Linked DNA regions of Homo sapiens: region 2 is linked to region 1. Evidence: fine-mapped expression QTL. A gene starts in region 1. The other region holds a variant in brackets. All regions are shown on one strand. Distances are between the middles of the regions.

The links. PIP is the estimated chance that this variant, and not a neighbour inherited with it, causes the effect.
Region 2: its variant is fine-mapped to the expression of UBE2F in whole blood (INTERVAL, PIP 0.96).

The regions. Positions count from the first base shown.
Region 1 is chr2:237,962,140-237,971,479 of GRCh38, reverse strand. UBE2F (ubiquitin conjugating enzyme E2 F (putative)) reads right to left here and starts at 4,466. Exons shown (of 10, transcript NM_080678.3): 1 at 4,348-4,466. UBE2F-SCLY (UBE2F-SCLY readthrough (NMD candidate)) reads right to left here and starts at 4,535. Exons shown (of 19, transcript NR_037904.1): 1 at 4,348-4,535. RefSeq lists a silencer at 4,243-4,422 and cis regulatory regions at 5,939-6,602, 6,929-7,332.
Region 2 is chr2:237,901,120-237,910,459 of GRCh38, reverse strand. The region is part of intron 2 of RAMP1 (receptor activity modifying protein 1); the gene reads right to left. Among named protein-coding and RNA genes, the nearest start is that of RAMP1, 46 kb to the right of the region's middle. The variant T/C (reference allele first, on the strand shown) is at 5,155.

The DNA of each region.
Region 1 (9,340 bases):
GTGGTGGCCCACACCTGTAGTCCCAGCTACTTGGGAGGCTGAGGCAGGAGAATCACTTGAAGCCGGGAGGCAGAGGTTGCAGTGAGCTAAGATTGCACCACTGCACTCCAGCCTGGCAACAGAGTGAGACTCAAAAAAATAAAATAAAATAAAACAAAATAAATTGTCACCAGTTCAATATTTCCATAATTTCCTTTGTTGCTTTCGTATCATTTTATTTCAATACCACTCTGATCGTTTCAACAGAAAATGATCTAAAAATTCCATGTGAAAAGCTTGACCTAAGCACAGAAATTTTAGGTTGAGGCTAAGATCCTGAAAGTCAAATAAGAATACTCCGTTCCTCATTGGCATTTGAAACCATTTTTCACCCAGGTCTCTTACACAGTTTCTCACACCATCTTCTGCATATCCCCTAAATGCTGTCAGATTTTATTTTCTATTGTTTGTACCATGAAAACAGTACAGGCCAGGCATGGTGGCTCATGCCTATAATCCCAGCACTTCGGTAGGCCGAGGCAGGTGGGTCACCTGAGGTCAGGAGTTCTAGACCAGCCTGCCCAACATGGCAAAACCCCATCTCCACTAAAAATACCAAAAAAAATTAGCTCGGCATGGTGGCGGGTGCCTGTAAATCCCAGCTACTCAGGAGGCTGAGGCAGAAGAATAGGTTGAACCCGGGAGGTGGAGGTTGCAGTGATTGTGCCATTGCACTCCAGCCTGGGCAACAAGAGTGAAACCGCATCTCAAAAGATAAAAAAATTTAAAGAATTTTTTCAAAACGAAAACAATACATAGAATACGATCTTCTGAACTGCACAGTCTTTTCCACTAGAGGACACGGACATACACATACCCTAAACCCCTTAAGAAGCACTGGTCTAAAGGTTTCAAAGACAGCTCTGCACTTTCACGGTCATAAGCTCTCAGAATTGCAAAGTTGGAATGGACTTCTCTCACTCCCATTCCATTTTAACATGTGGACCCCAGGACAACAGAGGCCCAGAAGGTAGGCTGCCCAAAGCCACTCAGCTGCTAGAAGCTGTCACCACAGACACACTAGTTTCCCTCTTGTGGATGACAAAAATGTTTTTTGTTTGTTTTTTGAGACAGGTCTTGCTCTGTAGCCCAGGCTGGAGTGCAGTGGCGTGACTTGAGCTCAGTGCAGGCTCAAACTCCCAGGTTCAAGAGATCCTCCCACCTCAGCACCCTCCACCTCCTAAAGCAGCTAGGACTACAGGCAGGCACCATCATGTCCAGCTAATTTTAATTTTTTTTGTAGAGACAGGGTTTCACCATGTTACCCGGGCTGGTCTTGAATTCCTGAGCGGAAGCAATCCACCTGCCTCAGCCTCCCAAAGTGCTGGGACTACAGACGTGAGCCACCATGCCGGGCAGGAAATGTTTTTATCTCGAGTGTGGTCATGGTTTCAGACTGATCAATTACACAATTTAAATATGGGCAATTTAGTGTATTTCAATTACGCCTCAATAAAGTTGACAAAAATGTGAAAATAAACCAACATTAGTTTCTTCATTGTTACGCTACTGTGCCATCTCCTCAGGTGGCCCTCCATAAGAGCACATCTTCACAGCTTCGCCCAGAGCAAAGCAGCTGGGTTCAGCTGATGAAGTTACTTCACAGGCAAATAGTCACAAACACCTGTAGGGGCTTTAGCTACCACAGACAGCAGCACCATCTAGAGCCAAGCTCTCCTGCTTCAGCCCCTACCTGGAATGATCTTGTCAAAAATCCCTCACAAGGATTCCTTGTCATGGAACAGTGTCTCCCTTCCCAGCCAAGTCTGCTGCCCCGTGTGCAGACTCGAGCACATCAGTCCTGCCACATCGTCAGAGTCACCCAATAATGGACCAAGACGTGCATCCATCCATCACCTGGGGGTCAGCTGGACGCACCAGATGCCCTACACAAGGACTACCAGGTCTCTGGCTGACCTTGGGAATGCAAATGAAGCAAAGAGTGAAAAATAAAAGCACAACTGCTTGAACATGAGTTCAGCAGGCAGTAACCTAGGAAAGTCAGAATGAAGAGTCCCACAGAACAGCAAGCACCAGGGCCACATGCAGCTCCCTGAAGGAGGCTCAGGGAAGCCTGGGGAGAGAGATCCTTCATGCACTCAAAGGCCAACCACCAAGAAACTCTTCTGCACCACTACAGCCCGCAGGCTACGCTTAACGCTTTTATACCCCCAATCACGCCACGATGAAGTCTTCTCTGTGGGCAGAAGACGCTCCAACATTCAATTCCACTGAAGAGTCAGATTGCTGGTTTACTATCTTCAAGTCTGTGACTTGCAAGATATAAAAGAATGTAACACTGGTGCTTTGTTTTCCATAGAAAGTAATAAAAAATGTACTTCTCTAACATTCTAAGAAATCTAATATAGTGACCATCTATTTTTCTATCGTGTGTATCATTTTCACACGCCACTTTAAGAATAAACCCAAGGCCTAATTTGGGAATGTTGCCATAGCTGTAAAATTAAATTTAAACCAAAGGATTCTATCAAAAAGTAAGTCTTCAAACTGTCAAGAGGCTAGCTGAATACCTGCAGTTGCTTCAGAATTCTTTTCCTTCTTCAATATGCTTCAACTCTTGAAGATCTGGTTTAAAACAAAACTTCCTCTTTCCTGCAAATTACGCTCTAAGGCAGCATTTCGGTAACAGATCAGCTGTTCTGAACAGCATTCTCAGTTTCTAAATTCCACAAGTTGTAATTGGCCCAGTTAGGTTCCTCCTCTGGGTGGGACCTGCTTTCAGACAGCCCGGAGAAGAGCATCTGGTGTGCAACTTACTAGTGCCATCAAGTGATATTTACTCAGCATCCCTGCAAGCAATGGCAAAACCAGGCCATGTCACTTGTGCAGGGACACCAGGGGCCAGTCAGCTCAAGGTGAGGGGGCTACTTATTTACAATTCCTTCCGAATGGAGACGTCTCAATCCAAGCATAAAGGATGGGACTGCGGGTCACTAGGGGACACTCAACTTCCCCAGCCAAAGGGGCCCCGATCAGGGCACAACAAAGTCCACATCCCACTCTTCTACAGAATGCCAGTGCCCAGGAACCTCCTGCTCGGCACAGGAGTACGCTGGTTGACCGACCATCTTTGGAGCCCAGCCCCTTTTACGTTCAGCAGTAAACCTGCCCCTTCCTGCACTGCCTACTACCTGAAAGGCAGGTATGTCCAGGTGGGGGGTCCTCAAGCCCCACAGCACTAAGCTTGGTGTGATTCTGTCTCTCAATCTCTCTCTCTCTCCCACCTCTATGCTCCCCCTTGCCTTCATCTCACTCCTCAGCCAGGATTCCTCTGCACCAGGCAGGCCAGTTTCCTCTTTGTTCCTTCACAACACCCTGTTCATTTCCAGAAGCTTCTATTCAGTCTGATACCCAGGTCTAGAATGCCCTCCTTCCCTTCACAAACGAATCCTACCCCTTCCTTAAGGGGAAGATTCCTACCTACATCCCAACATCTCCTCCTCCAAGAAGCTTTCTCTGGCTATTCCAACCCATCCTGCCCCCACTTCCAGGCGGTCGGGAATGCAGAGTGGGGGGACCCAATTCTCTCCTGTGACAGATGAGGAAACTGAGCCCAGGGAGGGGAAGGCCACACCCAAGATGACACACCAGCAGAACTAGGTCTGGAACCAAGACTCTGCTGCACTAATTGTTCCAAGATGCCCTTCCTTCCTCGTCTCCTTTGCTGTGGTAAAAATTTTCCAAACTAGCCTGGCCGCCCCCAGTTGTAGGTAAGCGTCCATACTTACTCTTCCCGCTGCAGGTACGAGGACCGGGCGCGAGTTGTCACTCCCCTCACCTCCCCCGCTCCTCACGGCCTAGCGCGACTCCTGCCCCGATCGGGAGTCCAGTCCCGGTTTCTGCGGCCACGTCGGGCCGGTGACCTTGGCCAGGCGCTGGACGCCCCGCTTCCTCCGTACAAGGCAGGCAGCCGATCCCGCGAGTGGGGCGTGAGCGCGGCCAGGTCTGTGCCACGCTCGGCCCAGGGCCTGGTTCACACCAGGTGCTCGGCGCGGGCCGTCCCCCGCCGCCGCCGCCGCGGTCACTCACTGCCGGGCGAGGCCAGCGCCCCGGCCGCCGACGCCGCCTCCGACCCCCGGCTCGCGGCCCGCGGCCCGCGGCCCCTTCCCATTCACGCCGCTCGGCCTCGCGTCCGGGTGCCCGCGCCCGCCAGGCCCCCGGCGTGAGGAACCCGGCGGGCCCGAGGCGGCCCCGCCACCGCCCGCGCCCTCCGCCCGGCCCGCAGGCCAGCCCGTGCACCGGCGGCCGCACCTCGCCCCGCCGCAGAGCCGCACGGTCGCTCCTCACCTGGGCTCCCCGAGACAGGCGAGGCGGGCCCGGCGCCCAACACCATGCCCGGTCCGGGCGGCTGCTGCGAGACGCGGCCCCTCACAGCCGCACCGGCTCCCGGCGGCGGGACCGGAAGTGGCGGGGCGGGGACTCGGCCGCTCTCGCCCGCGGCAGCCGAGACAGCAGCGGGCGCTTTAAAAAAAAAATTCAAAGTCGCGAAAAACTTTATTTGGAACCAGACACGCGAACAGCGGCGTGCGCCGATCGGGACTGGGCTGGGCGACGGGCCTCTCGGACCTCGCTCATTGGCAGAGGGCGCGGCCAGGGGGCGGGCACGGATTTCGCAACCGCCGCTGATTGGCGAGTAGCGTTAGGGGCGGGGATTCCGAGTTGGCTCTGGAGCCCGAGCGCCGGAGGGCTGGGGGTTTTGCACCTGGTTCCAACACGGGTTCACTTCGTGGTCTGCAGGGTTTAGGGGCACGGAGGAGCCCGGGCTATCCTTCCCTGAAGGAGCGGCCTCCGTGGCTGGAGCTCCCGCTGTCCAGCGCCGCACCTGGAGTGCAAAGGACTGGACAGGCCCCCGCAGCCTGCAGTGCAGGCGGTGAGGGAGACCGGGCGGTCAGACACGCAAGCCACGACCAACCCCAAACCGTGTGCTGCGCCCACAGGCCCCACTGTTCTTGTCATGTCCCTTTTATTCCTTCTTTTCTCTCTTAAATGTGTTTAAAGTACCTTAAAAATCCATTTCAACTTGTCCTCTTTTGGGCGCCCAGATTCATCCCGCGCCCATTAGCGTCCTGTGTGATTGACGAGGGGCCGTCCTGGGCGTCAGGCAGGCCCCTGGAGGAGTGGGCCATTAGAAAGATGAGGTTCAGCATGGAAACGGTCAGAAAGAGACAAGGAGTTAGACTTTCATTTCGAAAAACCCCACTGAGAGGTTTCTAACAGTGGAGTGACTATCAGGTTTTCTTCCTAAAGGAGGCTGGCGGGCCCGGTGGCTCACGCCTGTAATCCTAGCACTTTGGGAGGCCAAAGTGGGAGGATCCCATGAGCCCAAGAGTTTAAGACCAGCCTCCTGATGGTGGCAAGACCCCATCGCTACAAAAAAAGAAAAAAAAAATTAGCCGCGTGGTGGCGCGCGCCTGTAGTCCCAGCTACTCAGGAGGCTGGGATGGGAGGATCACCTGAGCCCAGGAGGTTGAGGCTGCAGTGAGCCGTGATCGCACCACTGCACTCCAGCTTGGGTGACAGGGCAGACCCTGTCCCCATAATAATAATAAAGGCTTTGGCTCTAAGTGAGTCGGTGGGAATGGAGTCAGGAAAACTGGTCAAGAACACAACTCAGCCGGGCGCAGTGGCTCAGGCCTGTAATCCCAGCACTTTGGGAGGCCGAGGCAGACAGATCACCTGAGGTCAGGAGTTCAAGACCAGCCTGGCCAACATGGCAAAACCCCATCTCTACTAAAAATACAAAAAAGCCGGGCGTGGTGGTGCGCCCTTGTAATCCCAGCTATTTGGAACGCTGAGGCAGGAGAATTGCTTGAACCCAGGAGGCGGAGGTTGCAGTGAGCTGACACTGCACTCCAGTCTGGGTGACACAGCAAGACTGTTTCCAGAAAAAAAAGAAAAAAGAAAGAACACAACTTGTGTTATTTCTTGTGTTTGGGACCATGTCTCTCCCTTTTTTGCCCGGCTAACTCTCAAGTTTTCCTAAGCTAAGACACCAACTTCTGATAGGCCTCAAAGCCTGGGGGTGGGGTGGGGCAGTGCAGGTGCCCTCTGTGTCTTCCTTGGAGCCCTGCACTTCCCTCTTCCTTATTGTCATGGCCTGTTTCCCTGACTAAGCTCAGCTCCTCAGCCCTCCTCTTCCTTCTTCCTCCAGCGTCACCTCCTGCCACCCCCTTTCCCATCCTGGAACATGCAGGTGATTAAAACACATCTGCTGGATAGAGATTGCATGCGCTGGCGGCATGAGTCCTGGTGAGAGGAGATAAGGGCTTGAAGATTGCAGTGTGTGAAGGTGCAGCCGGAATGGCGTGAGCACTTGTCTTACTCATAAGCGTCACTGTCTGCAGAATGGATTGCACCACACATTGGCCCACGTAGGCCCAAATTCCACCGCTGTGGATGAATGAAGTCATTTCTAGCTCCATTTCATGAGGCTGCCTAATTCTTTCACTAAGACTTATTTAGGACTTCCTAGTTTATTAACTCAATTAATCCAAACAATAACCCCATGAAACAGGTATTATCCCCATTTTATAGATGAGGAAACTGACACAGAAGTTAAGTAGTCTGTTGGCAAAAAAGGTCAAACTGTAAAATATTTGAAGAGATTTTATTCAGAGCCAAATATGAGTGACGAAGGCCTGAGTCACAGCCTCAAGAGGTCCTGAGAACATGTGCCAAGGTGGTTGGATTACAGCTCGATTTTTATAAATTTTAGGGGTGTCAGAGGCGTTTGAACCAGAGCAACTCCATCTTGAGGCTAAGACCTACTGGGCTACATTCCCAGGAGGTTAGGCATTCTAAGTCACAGGATGACATAGAAGGTTGGCACAGGTACAGGTCACAAAGAGCTTGCCGTTAAAAGGATGCCATTAAGAAGCCGGCCAAAACCAAGATAGCGACGAAAGTGTTCTCTGTTCATCCTCACTGTTCATTACGCACTAGTTATAATGTATCTGTTGCTAAAAGACACTCTCACCAGTGCCATGACAGTTTACAAATGTCATGGCAAAGACAGCAAGTTATCCTATGTGATCTAAAAATGGGAGGACCCCTCAGTTCCAGGAATTGCCCAGCCTTTTCCTGGAAAACTCACGAATAATCAACCCCTTGTTTAGCATATAATCAGGAAATGACCATAAAAGTGGCCAACCAGCAGCCCTTGGGGCTGCTCTGCCTACGTAGTAGCCATTCTTTTATTTCCTTACTTCTCTAATATACTTGCTTCACTTTACTCTAATGGATTCCTCTTGAATTCTTTCTTGTTTGAGATCCAATAACCCTCTCTTGGGGTCTGGATCAGGACCCCTTTTTGGTAACAGGGGGACAGAAGTTACAGGCAGACACCAATCAATACATGTACATTAGTTCAGTCTGGAAAGGCAGGATAACTGGAAGCAGGGAAGGGTAGGCAGGAGCTTCTGGATCATAGGTAGATTCAAAGATTTTCTGATTGGCAATTTGGTTGAAATAGTTATTGTCTAACGAACTGGAATGAATAGAAAGGAGTGTCTGGGATAAGATAAGGTGTTGTATAGACAAATGTTCTTATGTAGATGAAGCCTCCTGGTAGCAGGCTTCAGAGAAATAGATGGTAAGTATTTCTTATCAGACCTAAAAAGATGCCAGACTCTTGGTTAATCTCTCCTGGATCAGAAAAAGATCTGGAAAGGGAAATCTACAGAACGTAGATTTTCCCCACAAGAGACAGCTTTGCAAGGCCATTTCAAAATATGTCAAAGAAGGCTGGGCACGGTGGCTCATGCCTGTAATCTCAGCACTTTGGGATCACGAGGTCAGGAGTTCGAGACCAGCCTCACCAACATGGTGAAACCCCATCTCTACTAAAATACAAAAATTAGCCAGGTGTGGTGGCAGGCGCCTGTAATCTCAGCTACTCAGTAGGCTGAGGCAGGAGAATCACTTGAACCCGGGAGGCTGAGGTTGCAGTGAACCAAGATTGCTCCATTGCAATCCAGCCTGGGTGACAGAGCAAGACTCTGTCACAAAAAAAAAAAAAAAAAAACTCAAAGAAATATATTTTGGGGTGAAATATTTCTCTTTCTTTCAGGGCCCACCGTCATGTGATGCTATACTAGAGTCAGTTGGAATTTGGCATCTTATTAGTACAAACAGCCTGTTTTGTCAGTCTTATGATCTCTGTTTTAATGTTAATGCTGGTGAGCTGTGCTTGAATGCCAAAGTGAGGAGGGTATAATGCAGCATGTCTGACCCCTCCTTCCCATCATGGCCTGAACTAATTTTTTAGGTTTCTTCAGAATCCCCTTGTTCAAGAGGAGGGGTCCATTCTGTCGATTAGGGGGCTTAGAATTTTATTTTTGGTTTACATGTCCAACATGGCTGTGAGGAATAGAGAAGTTCTTCAAAGTTTCTTAAAACCATAAAGAGCTTGTCATTTCTTTGCTTTATGCATATCTATATATGTTCCAGTGCAGCTGCTCTGACTTGACCTGGCATGCCTGGACAGGGTTAAGGCAGCCCGGGACCATAGTGCCTGCCATAGCTTATTTGGAAACCCTCCTGACCCTCTCATGACTAGCTTCCTCTTTCCTTTGTCCTCTTTCCTCTTTACCTATTTAGAAAAGTTTCAAGCTGTTAGCCAATCAGGTCAAGCTTAGAATGTGAGGTCCCATTCTGGCCAATGGAAATGGGACACAGCCATAGGACGATTGCATCAGGTTACAAAGATTATAAATGTCCCCATCTCCTTTGTTCAGGTGTGCTCTCATGGCAAGACTGCTAGCGAGCGGCACCCTTTCTGCAGAAACTAAACTAGCCTTGCTGAGAGATCCTTTGTCTCAGTGTTGATTTTGCCACACCGAACTCCCATTTCCAACAATGGCAGAGCTAGGATTTAAAGCCAGGCAGTCTGACTCTGAGATTTGCCCTCAGCCAGCACACCTTGAGGCAGCTGATACAAAGAACTTGAGGTAAGCTCTGGGAAGCTGGAGATGGTGCCATGAGTGTATTGCCTGCAGGCCTGTCACCTGAGTCCTGGCCTCTGTGGGCTGGCCTTGCCCTACCAGGTGCCTCCAGGGAGCTAGGGCCTGGGCTCAGACATCTCCACAATCCAGGACATAAAGGGGGCTGGTGCCCCTAACTGTAACTTTCATGTTCTCTGGGAGGGACTGGCTCTGCTTCAGTCACAGAACCACTGTGTGTGTGTGTGGGAGTGGGGTGGAAGTTCAACTGTGAGCCTCACAGAGGAGTGTTGTTGCCCAAGGAAGGGCAGGGGGAGACAATGTCCTCGCATCCCTTCCTC
Region 2 (9,340 bases), 61 kb after region 1:
TGTGACTGTTATTCTCTGAGTGTGTGACATTCTATGTGTGACTGTGCAACACTGTGTTACTCTGTGTGTGTGTGTGACTGTGTTATTCTCTGTGTGTGATTGTGTGTGTGTGTGACTGTGTTATTCTCTGTATGTGTGTCCCTGTGTGTGAGCGTAACTTGTTATTGTCTGTGGGTGTGTGACTGTGTTATTCTGTGTGTGTCCCTGTGTGTGGGTGTAACTGTTATTCTGTGTGTGTCCCTGTGTGTGGGTGTAACTGTGTTATTCTGTGTGTGTGAACCTGTGTGTGCACGTGTGACTGTGTTATTCTGTGTGTGTGACCGGGTACGTGTGACCCCATATGGACTTCACCACAGGGCCTCTGACCCTATCCTGCCACGGCTGCAGGTGCCTTTACCCACAGGTATGGCTGCCACCAGGCTAGAAGGAAGGGAGTGGAGGTGGCCGTGCCGAGCCAGGGGCCTGGGCGGCACGGGCAGAGGGTGTGCCATTGGGGTGTTCCTTGGGCTTGGCTTGGAGAGAAGCCATCGCGGAGTCCCCTCTGCTCCAGGAATTTTAACCCTCGAAGCCACAGCGGGTGAGCTCATTCCCACCCTGCCCCTTAGGTGCTCTCAGGACTCTGCTCCCCAGGGCTCTCTGGGGAGAGCAAACGCCATCTGTTTCTGAACAACTTTCTCCATAGATGTGGGTTTGTAGGCCACAGGATGCCCTTTGAAATGAAGTGGACAAAACCCAAGTGGACCCAGCCATCGGTGCTTTTCTGTGTCATCTTCCAACCCAGGACGTGGGTGTCAAGTGCCTCTTGCAGCAGAGGAAACTGAGGCTCTGAGACATCACTGGCCGTGGGTAGAGCCCAGACCACGCCGGCTCCTTCTGCCTCCAGCCCTGCATTCCCTCCAACCCCCTGTGACCTCCTGCTTCACAGAACAGCCCTGAGACTCAGGAAGAAAGGCCCCTCTGGCGTTTCATGGGGCTCAGAGCCTGTTCTTGGGGACTGATGGCCTGAAGGGGTCTTGGTGGCATTCACTGTTGTCACCATTCCATGATAACTGCTGCAATCATGAAGGTCCACTGGGTACCCCTGCATGACAGGCACAGGCTCGGCAAGGCCTGTGTGTGAGCTCGCTCATGCTCGGGGACCGCTGTTACCCATTGTTTTGTAGACAGGGAAATGGAGGTTTGGGAAGGCTGGAGGGCTGCCAGGTGAGAGGGCCAGGGTGTGACTGCACGGGTCTCACACCTCACCACTGTCCCTCGCCCTCGGTGGCCAGATCTGGCCACAGCTTGGACACTTCCTTGTCTGGGTCCAAGTTGCACTCACTGGGGGTTGAGGCCACAGTGGGCATCCGTAAGCCAGAGAGCCTTGAATGAGCCCTTGCCCCATGGGGGCAGCCTGAGTGCCTCTAGGGCAGGTGCTGAGTCCCCTTCACCCCCGTATCCATGATGCCAGTGTGATGCCAGGCTTGCTGTGGAAGTTGTGCCACCAGGGCTGCAGCCAGGGTAGGAACAGGCTCAAAGGCCTTTCCACCATCCCAGACTCTTCTCTCCTGGGAAGCAGATGCCTTAGGCTGCTGAGGGAGGAACAGCACAGCCTGTCACCCCCAGGGCACAGACAAAGACACACCATGGCTAGGGGAAGGATAGGAAGGAACTCTTTTTCCTTGGAAGGGCACCAGGAAACCATCCTGGCCTACGATCCTGCACCATAGAAAACAGAGGCCTTGGCTGGGTGTGGTGGCTTAACACCTGTAATCCCAGCACTTTGGGAGGCTGAGGCGGGTGGATCACAAGGTCAGGAGTTCAAGACCAGCCTGGCCAAGATGGTGAAACCCTATCTCTACTAAAAATACAAAAATTAGCCAGGCACAGTGGCGGGCACCTGTAATCCCAGCTACGAGGGAGTCTGAGGCAAGAGAATCGCTTGAACCCAGGAGGTGGAGGTTGCAGTGAGCCGAGATCATGCCGAGATCATGCCACTGCACTCTAGCCTGGGTGACAGAGCAAGACTCTGTCTCAAAAACACCACCACCACCACCACCACCACCACCAGAGGTCTCTTCTCACTGGGGAAGGGACAGGACAGTCACACCCAAGACCCCGACAGAGTTTGCCACAGGGAAGAGGGGTAGGAATGCTGGGGTGAAGGGCACAGGGAAGGGCCTGTCTAAACTGAGGCTGGACCAGTACACAGAGAACCCACCCCAAGCCTTGAACATAACCTTGGTAGAATAACAAGCAGCAGCTGTCTACTGCCGAGAGAAAGTGGGGTAAGATCCATGCTGCAGCACAGGCAGGCAAGAGAAAGCTGAAAGCAGAGGGTGGGGCACCACACTGAGGAATCTCCTCCAGTGCCCTAGTCCCAACCCTGGGCACAAGGCAATGACAGCTCATTGCTAGAGGTACTTGAGGCCTATGGTACATTGAAGATAACCATAACAATGACAAATCCCAAACCCAGCTCAATTCCTAACAAGATTGACTCAAATCCCACACTAACGGTCTGACAGAAGAGGATTACCCATTTCCATATGTAAATACTATTGACCGTAGTCACCTCTGTTCTATACATGAATGTTCAGTATTCAATAAAAATTATATATTTTTTGTTCAGAAGCAACAAAAAACAACCAACCCATTGTCAAGAGGCAAAACAATGAATGGAGTTAGACTCAGAGACGACCTAGATGTTGTAACTATCAGACAGTTATGTTAGAATGGCTAGTATGACAACGGGTCTAGTGGAAATGGCAGACAATATGCATGAACAGATGGAGAATTTAAGCAGAGAAGTGAAAACTCAAAGTCAAAGACAGTTGCTAGAAATAAAAAGATATGGCATCAGAGAGAATTCCTTCAATGGGCCCATCAGCAGACACGAAAACTGAGGAAAGAGAGAAATTGAAGATGTCAGTAGAAATTAACCAAACTGGAACACAAAGAGAAAAAAAAGTGAGGGAAAACCAGAGCATCCAAGAACTGTGTAACATGACAATCCTATAAATGACATCAACCTCAACTCATAATGTGAGAGTCCCAGAAAGAGGAGAGGGAATGGAGCAGAAGAAATATTTGAAGAGATAATGGCTCAGGCTTTTAAAAAAATAATGAAAGACATAAAATCGCAGATCCAAGAAGCTTGGAGAACCTCAAGCAGGACAGAAAACAAAGCAGCTACAACAGCAAACAACCAAATAGACACATCAAACTCCAACTGCTGAGCACCAAAGAAAAAGGAAAAAATCTTGAGGTCAGAGGAAAAAAGACATACAGAAGAACAGTGAGTTACAGCAGATTTCTTAATTTCTTATCAGAGGCTTGTCATGTGGGAAGACAATGGGCAACATCTTGAAAGTATTAGAGGTTGCGGGGAGGGGAAACACATTTGTCAGCCTGGAATTCTATACCTAGAAAAAAATACCTTTTGAAAATGAGGTTGAGGCTGGGCACATTGGCTCACACCTGTGATTCCAGCACTTTGGGAGGCCAAGGCAGGCGGATCACTTGAGGTCAGGAGTTCGAGACCAGCCTGGCTAACATGGTGAAACCTCATCTCTACTAAAAATACAAAAATTAGCTGGGCATGGTGGCAGATGCCTGTAATCCCAGCTACTCGGGAGGCTGAGGCAGGAGAATTACTTGAACCTGGGAGGCGGAGGTTGCAGTGAGTTGAGATCACGCCATTGCACTCCAGCCTGGGTGACAGAGCAAGACTGTCTTTAAAAAAAAAAAAAAAAAAAAAAAAGAGGTTGATATAAGAACCTTTTGAGAAAAAAGCAGCTGAGAGAATTCATTGCCAGCAGACCTGTGCTACAAGAAATGTCAAAGAAAGTTCTTCAGTGATAAGAAAGAGTTTGAGATCCACATAAATAGATGAAGGGCTCCAAAAACAGTGAAAATGAAGACAATAGAAGGGTACTTTTCCTTATATTTAATCTAGAAAGTGAGTAAATGGATCAGAGGCCATAAATTAAATGTGAGGAGACCCCTGGGGGCTTTAAGAGGCTATACAGAAAAAGTAGGGGCCTCTCCGGCATCCCAGCACCCCTCTACCCCCGCCCCTATCGTACGGTCACTGTTTTTCCTTCCTGGCTGCCCTCTAGGTCACTGCCCTGAGTGTGCAGGGCCTCCCTTAGCCCATCCAAGAGGCCTAGTAGATGAGGCATGAGGAGGGAGAGGCAGCAGAGAGTGTGCCGTGCCTGTAGGCATTGGGGTGTGTGGTCTCTCCAGGTGAACAAGGACTCATGTTTCAAGAAGAAAACAGAAGTGGAAAAAGCCACATGAAGTCGTGACGGTTTGAGTCTCATCGTGGGGGAAAAACGAATGAGTGCACGTTATGTGGCCGGTCCATGGTAAATGTTAGACGTGTTATTGTTGCTGAAAACCAAGTCCAGCCTTCTCAACTACAGGGCTAAACAGTGAGAATGCTGCCTTTTTTTTTTTTTTTTTTTTGAGACAGAGTCTTGCTCTGTTGCCCAGGCTGGAGTGCAGTGGTACAATCTCAGCTCACTGCAACCTCCGCTTCCCAGGTTCAAGCGATTCTCCTGCCTCAGCCTCCTAAGTAGCTGGGACTACAGACATGGTCCACCATGCCTGGCTAATTTTTGTATTTTTAGTAGAGATGGGGTTTCACTATGTTGGCCAGGCTGGTCTCGAACTCCTGACCTCAGGTGATCTACCCTCCTTGGCTTCCCAAAGTGCTGGGATTACAGGCGTGAGCCACTGCATCTGACCAATGAAGCCTGCTTTGAATGATGATCCTCTCCCATATCTCAGACCCACCAAACCCGCAGGCAGTTTAGTTTTTGGTGTTCTGCAGATCCAGTGACACATGATCCTGAACACTGACCCCTGTCCTCTGAGGAGCGGAGCTGTGGCATTTTTAGGAGGAGCTATTGCCATCTCTGCACTGGCCAAACAGAACAGGAAGGAGCGGATGCAGGAAGCCACGCCACCACAGAACCCACGCCGAGGCCACGCTGAGGCAGATAGGGCCGTGTGTGGGTGGGCTATTCTGGGATCAGGCACTCTCTCCTTGATATGTCAGCCTTCTGGATTGCAGTGCCACCCACGTCTAAAAATATCTCTAATGTGCAGTCGGCTGCCCACTTCATCCTGTTTATTTATACAGAAGTGACAGCTGAAACTTTCAATAAA[T/C]GTTGTGAGCTCCGTCAGTGAGGATGTGATAAAAGAATTCCCCTCAGAGTACAGACATTCTTCTGCCCAAAAGAACACAGAACGGACTGAAGGACCCAAAATAGTCATGAAAAATACACCCTGGCTTTAACTCCCTAAAGTTTCAGTTCTCGTGTCACTGAGTAATTATCCTTTTTTGGCTAGGACCTTCTATTCTGGGGCTCGAAGCAAACTTTGCTTGGAATGTTCCTGAATCCTATGGTGGGAGTTTCCAGCATATCTGGGTCCCAAGTCAAGGCCCGACACCACTGTTCATGGTTACTTGCTGGTAAGAAAGTGTGATCACTGATGCTCACAGGTGAGTCATCTACTCTGGGGACACCCTGGGTTGCAGTTGTCCCCCAGCTACCCCCGGCTGGCCCTAATATGAAATATCTGAGCCTGGGCCCTGTCACCCATAGACCTGGGTTCAAATCCCAGCTCCACCTCTTACCCAGAGTGATCCTGGAGACCTCATTCGCTTGTTCAAGTCTTAGTCTCCTATTAAGATAAAGATACAGGTCCTCACTTGACTGGCTCATGACGTATACATTTCTTGTCCTTTTTGAGTTTATACTTAAGCAAAAGGTGACCAGGCAATGTGTGTCTAAATTGTCAGAAAATCTGAGGGGAAAGCACTTTTGGCTTTATATTCGCTTTTTAAAATTTATTTATTATTTTAGACAGCGTTTTGCTCTGTTGCTCGGGCTGGAGTGCAGTGGCACGATCTTGGCTCACTGCAACCTCTGCCTCCCGGGCTCAGGTGATCCTCTTGCCTCACCCTCCAGAATAGCTGGGATTACAGGCGTGCACCACCACACCTGGCTAACTTTCATTTATTTATTTATTTTGATTTTTATTCTATTTTTGAGACAGAGTCTTGCTCTGTTGCCCAGGATGGAGTCCAGTGGCATGATCTCAGCTCACTGCAAGCCCCACTTCCTGGGTTCATGCCATTCTCCTGCCTCAGCCTCCCGAGTAGCTGGGACTACAGGTGCCCGCCACCACGCCCTGGCTATTTTTTTTTTTTGTATTTTTAGTAGAGACGGGGTTTCACCGTGTTAGCCAGGATGGTCTTGATCTCCCGACCTCGTGATCCGCCCGCCTCAGACTCCCAAAGTGCTGGGATTACAGGCGTGAGCCACTGAGCCCGGCCCAATATTTCTTCTAGAAATACAAATGACTACTAAGCATGTGAAATGAAAGACCAAACATCCAGATGGCACTCCTCTTAAAAAGGAGAATGCTAGGCTGGGCGTGGTGGCTCACACGTGTAAACCCAACGCTGGGGGAGGCCTAGGCCGGAGGATTGCTTGAGCCTAGGAGTTTGAGAGCAGCCTGGGAAACATAGTGAGACCTTGTCTCTACAAAAAAATACAAAATGGCTAACACAGTGAAACCCCAACTCTACCAAAAATACAAAAAATTAGCCGGGCGTGGTGGCGGGTGCCTGTAGTCCCAGCTACTCGGGAGGCTAAGGCAGGAGAATGGCGTGGACCTGGGAGGTGGAGGTTGCAGCGAGCGGAGATCGCACCACTGCACTCCAGCCTGGGTGACAGAGCGAGACTCTGTCTTAAAGAAACAACAACAACAAACATTTGCCAGTGCTGGGATGCACCTGTAGTCCCAGCTAGTTGGGAGGCTTAGGTCAGAGGATCACATGAGCCCAGGGAGGTGGGAGATTGAGGCTGCAGTGAGCTATGTTCCTGCCACTGCACTCCAGCCTGGGCAACAGAATAAGACCCTGTCTCAAAAAAAAAGAAAATAATGCTGAATGCTAGTGAAGGTGTAGGATACTGAGGCAGGCACTCATAGCAATCCTCAGGGAAGATAAACTGGTACAATTTTTCTGAAACACAATTTGGCAATATGTATCAATAATCTCAAACTCACGGATGCCTCTTGACCCCGTAATTGCATTACTGGGAATTATCCTAAATTAATAATGTGAAATATAGATAACAGTGATGTAAGAAGGTGTCCACTGCAGATTTATAATTATGAAAAACAGCAAACAACAGGACAGCGGTCACAGAAATTGTTTATGAGTGGCTCCATTATGTAGCTGTTAAAATTATATTTAGGAAGAAAATTTTAAGATGTGGAAAAACATTTATGTTCTAAAGCTGGGCAGAAGAACAGCTCTCATGCCTGTGATCCTAGCACTTTGGGAGGCTGAGGCAGGAGGATCGCTTGAGGCCAGGAGTTCAAGACCAGCCTGGGCAACCTAGTGAGACCCAGTCTCTCTGCTAAATAAATAAATAAAGTTTTGAAAAGCAGCAGCAGGTTAGACCAGGTGCCATAAACAGCCTGGATTGGGGTAAAATGGTCCACATGGGAGGGGGACACAGCAGAATGTCACAGGAGTGATCCCCACCAGAATGGTAATAACACGAAGGACTTTTCTCTCAACTTTTTTGGGTTTTCTACCTTGAGCATACATACTTTTTATAATTATATTTAACAGCTCATTTTAGCAGGAAGGCTCACAGGAAACTAGATGTTGGCGTCACTGCATCTGCAGCCACCGTGCCTGGTGTCTGGGGCAGCCTGGGTCTTCCCACCAGAGGGCTCTGATGTGCAGGCAGGGCTGGGACCCTCTGGTGACAGCGGCTCATGGGGGAGGCGTGCAGGGCAGACAGGGAGCGGGGACGGGGCGTTGGGCCTCTCCAGTCTCAGTGGCCTCCTGCGTGGAACTGGGGGCCCCGCGGGACCCAACTCTGAGGCAGGAAGGGGCTCTGTGGAAGGGTGAGTGGGGGTGCGGGGTGGGCCCTGGGGGCAGGACCCCACTTTCCTCCTCGCTGTGTTCCCCCCACCCCCTCTGCGGAGACCTCTGCGTCCTCCTGGTCCTCCTGTTCCCTCCTCCATCTCCCTGTCCTTCTGGCCCCTCCTCTTCCTCCTGATCCCTCTCTCCTCCTGGCCTCTCCCTCCTCCTCCCAGCCCCTCCTCCACCCCCTGATCCCTCCCTCCTCCTCCCAGCCCCTCCTCCTCCTCCCGATCCCTCCTTACCCCTCCCTCTTCCACCTCGCCCTTGCTCCAGGCCCCCACCTCATCCTCACTCCAGCCTTGCTCCGGGTGGCAGTGGGGCATCCTCACTCACTGAAGACCCCGGGCCCTTACCAGCCCCCGGAGGAGAGGCATCCCCCGCGAAGTGCTCCTTCTCTCTCGGCCTTGGGCTGCACCTGAGAGTTCCCCATTCTCCCTCCTCCACCTGAAGCCTGGGCTGTTCACTTCTGGCTGTGAACACATGTGACTCAGGGCCCCCATGCCATGCCTATCCCCTGAGTTATCATGGCTCCCCTTTCCCTCAAGGGTGCCCTCCCCTCCTGAGGCCCCATCACTGTGCCCAGGATGGGGCAGAAGTGACTCGTCCTGGTGGATGGGTTATTACAACTTACATACCAGCTTCCACTTTTCTGTAGTGAGTATGTGGGGGCTTGGCATCTATCTACCCCTTCTTCTGCCTCCCCCAGTTTAGTCAGGGGCAGCCATCAAACCCCTCCACCGCCCTCCACTCTGCATGCTGGGCTTAGCTACCACGGGCTCTCCAGGCCACATCCCACACCCTGGCCGCTGCCCAAGCCCACCGTCCACACCTTCCCACCCCTGCTTCACGCCTTCAGTGCTCACCATTACACCTGTCCCAGATTCAGAAGCTTCTGTGTGGGTCACTCAACTGGGTCCCCTCCCTCCTGCTGGCCACATTCTAGCCACAGTGGCCAGTGTTCTGCCTCAGGACCTTTGCACATGCTGTTCCTTTTAACTGGAAAGCTCTTAGCCTCATCTTCACAAGGCCACCCTATGCTCGCCCTTCGCTTAAATGTCACGTCCTCAAAGAGGCCTTTTCTGGATGCTTCAATCATATTTGGCTTCCCCAGCAAAGTGGGGTTTTCCTTCATAGATGGGTGTTACTTTGTGGCTGTCCATGAACTCATGTGATTATTCACCCACTGTTGGTCTCAACAACCAGACTGCAGACACCACCGGGGCAGGGAGGGTAAGAGCAAAAATCCCCCTTACTCTGGTCACAGTGGCCACCTCCAAGGCAAAGTGAAACAAAGCCTGAAGGAAGACAGCGAGAGAGGGATGTACCCAGGAGACGCAGACAGAAGGTGAGCAGGGGTGTGGGCTTCCCAGCAGACCTGGCCCAGGCCGGTGAGAAGGGCCA